2 separate regions of the Homo sapiens genome follow, and region 1 is linked to region 2. Evidence: fine-mapped expression QTL. Tissue or cell type: whole blood. Region 2 holds a variant in brackets; the other region holds the start of a gene. All regions are shown on one strand. Distances are from middle to middle.

Region 1 (5,235 bases), 190 kb after region 2:
AAGGGACAGAGCCTAGAATGCTTCTGCATCAACAGGGAACAAAGGCATGGGGTCTCCTCTCTGTCCACCTTCCCTTCCCACAGCCCAGGCTGAAAGGGCTGCCCTAGGCGCTCCTGAGGCCTCCTCTCTTATGGGGCTAGAGCTGAGGGAACCTGGGGTTGGTAGCCATCCAGAGACCTAAGGCGTGCCCTGACCCAAACCAGGAGTCACCAAGAGACTGCCTCTAGAGAATAGGCGGGGAAGGGAAGTCACACCAAGTCCAAGCGCAGAGTTCAGAGGGCTGAGGAGGGGTGACGCGGAAGTACAAATGAGTAAGCAGCAGTTAGGAAGTGTGCCAAGTCCTGACGTGCAGAGTTCAGAGGGCTGAGGAGGGGTGACACGGAAGCACAAATGAGCAAGCAGCAGTTAGGCAGTGCAGGAAGAACACACAGGCGGAGAAGGGAAAGCGAACGTCCTGCTCTGCTGCAGGCTATGAGGGCAAAGGCAGACCCGGGAGCCCACTGTCCTACAGATCCTTCTTCTTGAATCCAAATCATGCAGCAAAATAAAAACAAAACCCCCAAACCATGGGGCACCCGAATCCTTAAACAAAACCCCTACTGCTTGAGGCTACGTGAGCCTCTGCTGCTGCCGCCACTACAGCAGGGGCTGAAGCTGAGAGCTGAGAGTCACGGTTCACCTGTAGGGCCTGGGATGCAGCCAGCCTTCAAAGCACGGTTGTTAGAGATGAGTTTGAATAAATGCATAAATACTCTGTTCCCATATCCTCATTTCCCATGACGTCCCAGTAATAACTCTGGATGCCAAGGCTTCCTGGCTCGTCAGTTGCCCTCACACACATTTATTGCATTTTATCTTCATAACCACCCTGTGGGAAACCCAAGGCTGATATTAGCCTTGCTTTGCAGATAATTATCATCCCCATTTTACCGCTGAGAAGATTGAGGCTTGAGGAAGCTAATAACTTGCTTAAGGTCATAGGCCAGAGGAGACAGAACCCAGTGTTCTTTCCCCAGAGGAGGCCTCTTGCCAACACCCCACACTGCTTCTGATGAATTGCCAGGAAACAATTTTAACTTATCTCAAACAATATTAATAGGACTACACTTAAACTCCTCCCAAACACATCCAAATGTGTGCCCTCACCCTCTCTCCAGCCTTGTCCCGTGACCAACCCAACCAAACTTCCGAAAGGGTTTTTTGTGTTCTAGGAAGTGACCGAGCCCCACAACCCTTTATGCCTGTGCGTTCAGAGGATTTGTGACCTTTTTTTTTTTTTTTGAGATGGAGTCTCGCTCTGTCGCCCAGGCTGGAGTGCAGTGGCGGGATCTCGGCTCACTGCAAGCTCCGCCTCCCGGGTTCACGCCATTCTCCTGCCTCAGCCTCCCGAGTAGCTGGGACTACAGGCGCCCGCCACAGCGCCCGGCTAATTTTTCGTATTTTTAGTAGAGACGGGGTTTCGCCGTGTTAGCCAGGATGGTCTCGATCTCCTGACCTCGTGGTCCGCCCGCCTTGGCCTCCCAAAGTGCTGGGATGAAGGGCAGGGAGAGGGAGGGGGAGGGCACCGCGCCCGGCCCACCTGGTGTCTTTCAATCAGGGAAAGAAAAAATAGTGGAGGAGGAAACGGCAAGGTTGGATTCACTGCGAAGGCTGACTGTACAATAAGAAGCAAAAGGAAAAGCGGTTCAGTTGTGAAAATCAGTGTCAGCCCTGGGTGTAGGGGAAGGTCCTCTCCACAAACCAACAGAACACCTCCCCAGCCCCGAGCACCTCTGCCGAGGCACCCGGCCCACTGGAGGGCTGAGGGCGGATAACCACGATAACTGAAAACACTTTCCTGAGCGTCTCGGGGCTGAGGAAGAGGGAGGATTACACGCAGCCCACTGGCTTTGCAACCTCGTCTGTAGTGGTGGAGTGAGTGCAGGTCCAGAAACAAACCAGACCGGCCTTGAAATTCTGCCCTAACTTCAGAGCTGTAATCCTAGGCAGGTTACTTTTAATACTTCTGAATCTTTCTTTACATGTAAAATAGAGGTATTGTATTCGCTGCACAGGGTTGTGAATATTACATGGGTGTTCGACACGGAGCTAGGCACTCGGTGATGTTGGCTGTCGTCACTGGCATTCACTGTTACGAATTTGCGGAGTACAGAAAAGCATAAAAATAAATAGGTCACCCTCATCCTACCTCTGTGACAGACCATCTAGTCTTTGCTTTTCCTACTCAACAAGCTTTCCAGCTCTTGGCGTCAGCTCTAGACCTAAGGCGGACGGAGGAAGGGGTCGGGGTGGCGGAGGACCCCGCGCGCCTGGGAGCCCACGAGGGACCCTGCCCGGGCCCGGAGGGCGGACCCTGAAGAGAACAGAGCCTCTTCCTAAGCTTCCAGACGGCGCCTCCCCGCTTCCTACGATGGGCTCGCGCAGCGGCCGGGGCAGGACCGAGGCTCGAAGCGCCTCCGAGGTGAGCCAGTCCGAAGGCACAGGACGGAGCGCTCCGAAGTCAGAGGTGTGCGGGACGAGCTCTGCAGACGCCTGCCAGGCCGCGCCGCACTGCGCGCTCCCTCCCTCACGACCCTCCTCCTCCGGGGCTGCCCTCCCTGCGGCGGCTGCAACTTCAGTCCTCGTCCTCGGGCGGCTCAAGACGCAGGAAAACCGCCCCCTTCCTGCGCTCCTCACACCCGAAGGGGCCCTCCCGACCCGAGGCCTCCGGCGCCGCCCTCCTGAGCGCGGGCCTCTACTCGCAGGCGGGATTCCGGCCCGCACCATCCGCCCTCGCCTGTGACCGAACCCTGCGGGTGACGCAGGCTGCCCGGGCGTGAGGCCCCTCGGCGCGGGCGGAGCACGACCACGCAGCCACGACCCGGCCGGTTATTCACCCGCCAGGCCCTGGGAATACAAGGCCGGCTTCAAAAAAACCAGGGCACCCGCGACCTCCTCGCAGACGCGCGCCCCCATACCCGGGCCTCAGGCAGCCACGAGGTAGACGGGCTCAGGCTCGGGGGTGCGGCAAGCGGCACCCGGGCGCGGCGGGGCGCAGCTGTGGGGACCGCGCAGGCGCCACGTCAGACCCCGCCCACCCCGCCGCGCAGGCGCCGTGTAGCGCCCCGCGGATCACGCAGGCGCGGCTTTCAGGCCAACATGGCCGTGCTGCTGCTGCTGCTCCGTGCCCTCCGCCGGGGTCCAGGCCCGGGTCCTCGGCCGCTGTGGGGCCCAGGCCCGGCCTGGAGTCCAGGGTTCCCCGCCAGGCCCGGGAGGGGGCGGCCGTACATGGCCAGCAGGCCTCCGGGGGACCTCGCCGAGGCTGGAGGCCGAGCTCTGCAGGTAAATCCCCGCGGAGTCCGGGCCCCACCTCCCGCCCGGCTCTGCTCTGTAAGGCCCAGCCCGGCGGGGCGGGTCGGAGGCCGCCTGGCCCCTGCGGCGGGGGAGCCTGCGCCTGTGGGCCCGCGGATCCCCCAGCTGTGGACCTCGGCGCGGAGCGACTGTTGGGGCCCTGGATCGTGGGCGCTGGGCGGGCCGGGAAGAGGCAGGGCTGGGATCCGCGCAGTCCTCGGCGTGGACTTTCCCAACCCGTCTGTTGTGTGTGGATGTTCTCCGCCCGTCTTCCTCGCCTTTTAAAGTGGAATCCAGTAACGGTTTCCGGCGTAGCACTAATTTACAGTCCACGCCTGTGGATCGATTCCGTCACCAGGAATTCCAGCGCCTTCCAGTTAGGGTGGTTATTGCCGAGTAGGGGGCCCAGAACGTTTCTGTGTCCGCAAAATACCCTGTAGCTGCATTTTGCTGTTGTCATGTAGCTCGGCACGTTATTGATACAGTCATTGAGCACCCCCTGTAGTGCGGCCTTGTTTCAGGTTCTGCTAAGGATAGGATAGCATCTCCTCCCGAAAACCAGACCTTGTGTCCTTCAGCTTTTGGGCTGATGTTTTTTTCTCCTAGCCCTCGCCTAGGAGCTTAGCCCACACCTTTTAGGTTGTTGTTTTTTCGGTTATTTTTGAGACAGAGATCTCGCTCTGTCGCCCAGGCTGGAGTGCAATGGTCTTGGCTCACTGCAACCTCCGCCTCCCGGGTTCAAGCGATTCTCCTGCCTCAGCCTCCTGAGTAGCTGGGATTACGGGTGCGCGCCACCACACCCAGCTAATTTTTGTATTTTTAGTAGAGACGGGGTTTCACCATGTTGGCCAGGATGGTCTCCATCTCTTGACCTTGTGATCCGCCTGCCTCGGCCTCCCAAAGTGCTGGGATTACAGGGCGTGAGCCACCGCGCCCGGCCATAAAACATATTTAAATGGGAAAATGTTTATCTTGAAAGGAGAACTCTGAAAGTATATACTTGTTAACTGGTTTGGTACCTGGAAATGTTCTACAAGGAGCCACTCTCTGGTGACAGCAGGAGCCCCGTGTCTGGGCAGCCACTGTGGCCTTTGGAGAGCTGGGCTGCTCCCTTTCTCCTGCAGAAGCTTCAGGCCATGGGATAGCAGCCAATGTACTTCTGTGTTTTGTTTTCTTCTTTTTTTTTTTTTTTTTTTTTTGTGACAATCTCGCTGTGTCGCCCAGGCTGGAGTGCAGTGGCCTGATCATGGCTCCCTGAAGCCTCTGCCTCCTGGGCCCAAGCAATCCTCCCACCTCAGCCTCCCAAAGTGCTGGGATTACAGACATGAGCCACCGTGCCTGGCCACTATCGTGATTTTTTGTTTGTTTATTTGTTTGTTTTTTGAGATGGAGTTTCCCTTTGTTGCCCAGCCTGGAGTGCAGTGGTGCTATCTCGGCTTACTGCAACCTCTGCCTCCCGGGTTCAAGCGATTCTCCTGCCTCAGCTTCCTGAGTAGCTGAGATTACAGGTGTGCACCACCACGCCCGGCTAATTTTTGTATTTTTAGTAGAGATGAGGTTTCACCATGTTGGCCAGGCTGGTCTCAAACTCCTGACTTCATGTGATCCACCCGCCTCAGCCTCCCAAAGTGTTGGGATTACAGCCGTGAGCCACCACGCCTGGCCAATTACTGTGTTTTAACCTGTTTACTTGCTTTTGACATTTTGATGTTACCTAAAGCTTTGACCTATTGCTCAGACTATTACTTTATATTTCAGGGCAATGTAGATATTACAAATAATTATATATTTGAACTTTTAAAAACGATTTTTAGTCTGCATTGCTTTGGTACTCTCTAATGTTGGTGTGACCTCCAGTATTGTTTTTTTTTTTTTTTCAGAGCTTACAATTGAGACTGCTAACCC
Region 2 (5,201 bases):
CCAGTCTGCTTCTCCACCATGTCGCTGCTGAGGGGAAGCTCTTCCTGCTGTGGTGCTTTAGGGCACCCACCCTTGGGCATCGTCCTGCTCCTCACCCGATCTTCATTTACACGGCCGGCGCTTCATCATCAACCGTCTGCTTCAAAAGAGAAGACACACAATTCACTGAATTCAGAGGCAGCTCAAAACTCATCCACTCTCACACCGCACTCAACAGACTCAGTAACTAGTCAAGGCAGGCAGCTGCTCTGATCAGGGCTGGGGCCCGGGCCAGGCCCAGGAAGGGACTTCTCAGGATACGCCTCCCATAAAGGGGTCACCAGCAACAGGAATGGCAGCTTTGAGCAGGAAGGAGAACAGAGAAGGGTCAAGCACTTTGTAGTGGCAGAAAGGGACGCATGGCCTAGGGTGTGGCTGTGTTCTGGGTGGCAGTCAGCAGCACCTGGATCCTGGGTCCCACCTGGTACAGGCTACACCCAAAACGGTCAGGCACCACAAGGCAGTCCCTTCCCCGCATTACAGGCAAGGTCACAACACGCAGCGCAGTACCCCAGCCCTCAGGTCTGGCAGGTCATGTCCACAGCCCCAGCCTCACGCCCCACTCACCACCTGGGAAGGAGCTCCTGTCCCCACCAGGCCTGTGCTTTTTGCACACCCAGTTCCCTAACTTGGTAGGCAAGGGGTGTCTCTGAGCGAGTCCCAGCAGCTCCGAGGTCCCAACTCCACGCCCATGGAAGCAGACGCCCCCTCGGGCCTCAGGCTCCAGCTCCTGGGTTTCCCAGGAAATCCGAGGACACATACTGTATTAATTGTATATTATTTTTATTTATTAATCATGTTTTATTTTAGGAAATTTTGCCATCTTAACAAGTTTCTGGCCAGGGAGAGACTGCCCCTCTCTCAGGGCTGGCAAATTCCTAGATAGCCAAGGGCTCCCATGCAACCCAATCACCTTCTTACCCAAGTTCACGCCCAGGCCAAGCCCTGCCTGAAACCAGCGCAGAGCCAGGTAAAGGAAACTAGAAAGTGTCCCTACAGCACAAAGCCTGCAAGAACTTTCCGAAGCAGCCACTCCCGAACTATTTGCTCTGCCCCGTCCCTCTCTTTCTGCAGGAAACCCAACAGGCAGTTGGGGGAGGCCTTCCCCGAGCCCCTGCTTCCGACTCCCACCCCCGTGGTGTGAGGCTGCCCCTCTGCGACACACGGTGCGAGCGCACTTCTTCCTTCCCAGCCTCGTCCTGGTCTCTTCTGTGGCGATGCCAACTTCCCCACGCCACGCCTGGCATGGACACTCTCGGAGCATGGGCCTCCTCCCTGCCTGTGGGCCTTCTAGGTTTGTTCACCATCACAGCCAGGCCTCCCGGGTGCACTCACGAGAGGAATGGGGGACACACCTACACACCCACACCCAAAGCCACTGTCCCCCCATCATGTCCTCGCCGCACCGTCAGTTAGAAAACATTTCATACAAATGGAACTGTGTGCACGTCTCTGCCCTTTCCGCCACAGCAGCACCTCTGTGCGCGACCATGCCGGGAGAAGCAGCTTCTGCAACTCGCTCCCCTGCATTTACCCATCTCGCTCATGCACGAAGTATGGCTTTTGAAACACGATGTGCAGACCCATCTGTGAGTGGCAGCTCCACTGTGAGCCTCTCCCACCTCCACCCCGTCAGCTAAAGGATACGTTGCATGCCACCTGCCCCTGGACGCAGGCTTGGCTGAGACCACAAGATGCTTCTCCTCCAACACCATCTCATGACCTGCTTTGTCTTTCTAAAATAAATGATAAAATCCCACCAACTGCTGTCTTGGTATTTAACTGGTACAAGAACACAGGTGAAGTTATTCTGGAGAGAGGGACAGGTCGGGTCAACGTATTCACTGCCTGACACCTCCACCCGCGGTGCAGGTGAGCAGGTGTTTCCATCCACCATCCCTGATGCCTGAGGCCAGACATATTTTCTCTCTCTACCTGAACCAATGAATTTTACATTCTCTTCCAATTTTCCACCACAAAACCGGAATGTCTCAGCCTGGAGAAAGGGCATCTCAGCACCTGACTCGGAAGGCTGTTCAAGCTCATGGCTGTCTAGAAACTCAGTGGTAATGTTTACAAGTTTAAGGATTATCTGGAATTAACATTTTAAAAAATCCAGACTGTCTGCTCTCAGGACGGAAAAACGGGGCCTTCACCATGTAGAGTCCACCGTCCTGATCCCAGATGTGAGTCTGTGGCCCACGGACACACTCAACAGCTCTGGCGTGGTCAGGGCGCAGACCCCACGGCCTCCGGACGGTGTCTGGGCCCCGACAGTGCGGGGCTTATCACTTCACTCCTGAGACACCTGATTCTCTTCATGTCCCTAGCTTGGTGCTTTGCCCAGGCACCTTCCCCAATGGACCAGGGATCTGGGAGTCCACTCAGGAGGTGGAGGAAGTGGGTCGCACCCACCAGGCAAAATACTTTTCACGGCCTGCATCACAGCGAACACTCCGGGGACTCGGGAGTGTTGTCCCAGGTGTACGCTGTGTTTTCTGGAGACG[T/C]TTCTCCAGCCACCTGCACGATGACAGCTAAGACCATCCAGGCCGTGGCCCTTCCAGGACCCTCGTGTCCGCCTGGCCTTGGCTACAACATGTTACCGATGGCAGCGATGTGCTCGAGGCCCTGCAACCCCAGCCCCCGCCTCTCCATGAACCACCACCCTCATCACAGTCATGGAGATGGTGACAGCTGAGATGTCCTGCTGAAGCATCTGCTGGATGTGGATGAAGCTGGTTTGGATGTAGCTGCCATCTAGCCCAGGCTACACCTCCCAGGACCCGCCTGCAGGCACCAGGCGTGCAGCACGCGGCCCACTCTAGAGTCTTTTTCAATGAGAGACCAGATGAGGACAGAGGCTCCAGTTGCTTTTGTTCTGTTCCAAGACTTGCCATCCCAGTCCTCCCAGAAGCTGCCCTGGTGATGCCTCTGGCACCTTTGGCCCCCACACTGCCCTGTGTTCCCTCCACCAGGCTCAGGGCTGGTCAGCCTCACCCCTTGCCGTGAAATGGCAGAGCCAGCCGAGGGCCGAGGAACCGTTACTCAGCCGTGTCAGTGACTTCTACCAGGGGCTGCACGGCACTCAGGAGTCAGGCCAACAGGCTCTGCTGACTCATGGGTGTTGTCTGAGGGTGGGGGCTGTGATGATGTCCCCAGGCCTCCCTGGCAGGGCTGTCACATAAAACAGTCCTTGAAGCTGGGAGTCCCCTCTTTAGACAGTTCCGCAGCCCCTGTGCCTTCTCATCACGATGCTGCACAGCCGACCACACAACAGAAGGCACCGGGTCTCACTCCCGGGGGAGACTCTTCCCTGGAAGGTGACTTGGCTGTCCCTGCCTAGACTCATTTTAAGTGCAGCCTAAATCTCCCTCATTTCCAAGTTATCAGGCAAAGTCTATTTTAAACTCACGACCCTTGAATCAGCAGGAAACTGAAACACGCCTCAGGCCACTGGGGCTGACTCACGCCCTGTGCTGAGCGGCAAGGCACAGCCGCGGGAAGGTAAACGCAGAGCCGAGGGGCCGGCCAGCACCTGGCCCTGACCGCCCCCAGGCCACGCATTCCTTGTTACTTCACCTCCTGGCGGATGGCAACCGTCCCAGCTTCGTGGACTGTCAGGGTCACCGAGAGTCCAGGGTGGTGGGAGTCCCCCACACGAGCCACTGGCACACTCCCTGAAGCAGAAGCCACGGCGCCAAAGCTGTGGGCTCAGGGAACTTGCCCATTACCTGGCAGCCCCGCATCTGTGCCAAAATAAGACACAACTCAGCCCAGCGGAGTGGACAGTGTCTGCGGCCAGCTCTGGGATCCAGGGCCAGCTGATGCTGGGAACAGCCGTCCTTGCCCTGTGCCTCTCCACACTGCGAGAGCCCCTGCAGCCCAGAGGGGCTCCACCTCCCCTGCAATGGGGCTCAAAAGACAATCCTTCTACGGGGCTGGCAGGACAGACGTGACAGGAACAACGATGGCCTGCTCCTCCCGGAAGGTGGCTTCAAGAGCACTCAGGAGGTGACAGATGCTGTCAAGACCGGCCCAGGGAAGGCACAGGGCAGGTTTCCCAGCACCCACCACGCGCCAGCGAGCACAGAGCCTTCGCCTGAACCATCCAGGCACCGCGCCCTCCCCCTCCGCACACACAGGAGCCCAGCTGCGATTCCCTCTGCTCCACAGGAGATGCAGCGAGCACCAAAGAGCCTTCCTCCAGGATTAAGCCTGATGCAGAAGTGGTTACACTGACTACGGCAAGGTCAGTTTGGCAAAACCCCCAGGAATTTCAGCCTATCTGGTCTCTTCAGCTGACAAGAGCAGGCACTGGTGGGGAATCCGGCGCTGCCTCTCCCCGGCTTCTAGGATCTGAGCTGGGCCAGGACAACCCTGAGACACCTGTCGGGCGGGGCAGGACTGGGGCTGCAGGGCGGGACTGTGGGGAGGGGACTGTGGGGCGGGGCCTGCAGGGCAGGGTGTGGGGCGGGAGCTGCGGGGCGGGGACTGTGGGGCCGGGTGGGGAGCCGCAGCTGCGGGGCAGGGGCTGCCCAGGAGCACTCCTTGCCAGAGGCCTTGGCATCACCAGGGAGTCCGTGGACCATGGAGACTCACGGGTCCCCTCGGGCCTTCTGAACCCAAACCTGCATTTTAAGCATGTTCTGTTCTGCACACTAACACCTGAGAAGGACCGTATAAGAAAAAACTTGTAATGACACAACTAATCTTAAAACTCACAGAAAAAAAAAAAGACTTCTTTGGGGTTGAAATTCACCTTCAATAAAGGGATGGAATGTAAGCAGAGCTGACCATGAACAACCTGGGTCTGGGTTTGCACTGCGTGGGTTCACTTACACGCAGATTTTCTTCCACCTCTGCCTCTCCTGAGACAGCAAGACCCATCTCTCCTCTTCCTCTTCAGCCTCCTCAACGTGAAAACCCGGAGGACGAAAGCCATTCGTGGAGACCCGCTGCTGCTGCGCGAGGCTTAAGTCTATTTTCTCCTCATGATCTCAGTATTTTCACGTCTCTAGTTTGCTCTACCCTAACAGTAAGAGCAGAACACACATAACATACAAAATGTGTGTGACTGGCTTTATGTGGTCAGGAAGGCTCTGGTCAACAGAAGGCTGTTAGTTAAGTTTGGGGAAAGTTAAAAGTTCTACACAAATTTTCAA

What was found. PIP is the estimated chance that this variant, and not a neighbour inherited with it, causes the effect.
Region 1: SPG7 starts here. The variant in region 2 is fine-mapped to the expression of SPG7 in whole blood (TOPMed, PIP 0.98).

What each region holds. Positions count from the first base shown.
Region 1 is chr16:89,505,280-89,510,514 of GRCh38, forward strand. It overlaps SPG7 (SPG7 matrix AAA peptidase subunit, paraplegin), which reads left to right and starts at 3,124. Exons shown (of 17, transcript NM_003119.4): 1 at 3,124-3,321; 2 at 5,211-5,235. The coding sequence starts at 3,139. LOC101927863 (a long non-coding RNA gene) reads right to left here and starts at 3,041. Exons shown (of 5, transcript NR_188547.1): 1 at 2,958-3,041; 2 at 680-868. RefSeq lists an enhancer at 569-618 and silencers at 2,438-2,507, 2,628-2,837, 2,908-3,467, 3,498-3,617.
Region 2 is chr16:89,316,940-89,322,140 of GRCh38, forward strand. ANKRD11 (ankyrin repeat domain containing 11) reads right to left here. Exons shown (of 13, transcript NM_013275.6): 3 at 1-139. The coding sequence starts at 80. It overlaps LOC128462377, which reads right to left. Exons shown (of 2, transcript NM_001416403.1): 2 at 107-136. The coding sequence ends at 107. LOC100287036 (a long non-coding RNA gene) reads left to right here and starts at 3,513. Exons shown (of 4, transcript NR_168302.1): 1 at 3,513-4,288. RefSeq lists enhancers at 84-675, 676-1,267, 2,529-3,041, 2,986-3,365, 3,042-3,555 and a silencer at 3,886-3,965. The variant T/C (reference allele first, on the strand shown) is at 2,547.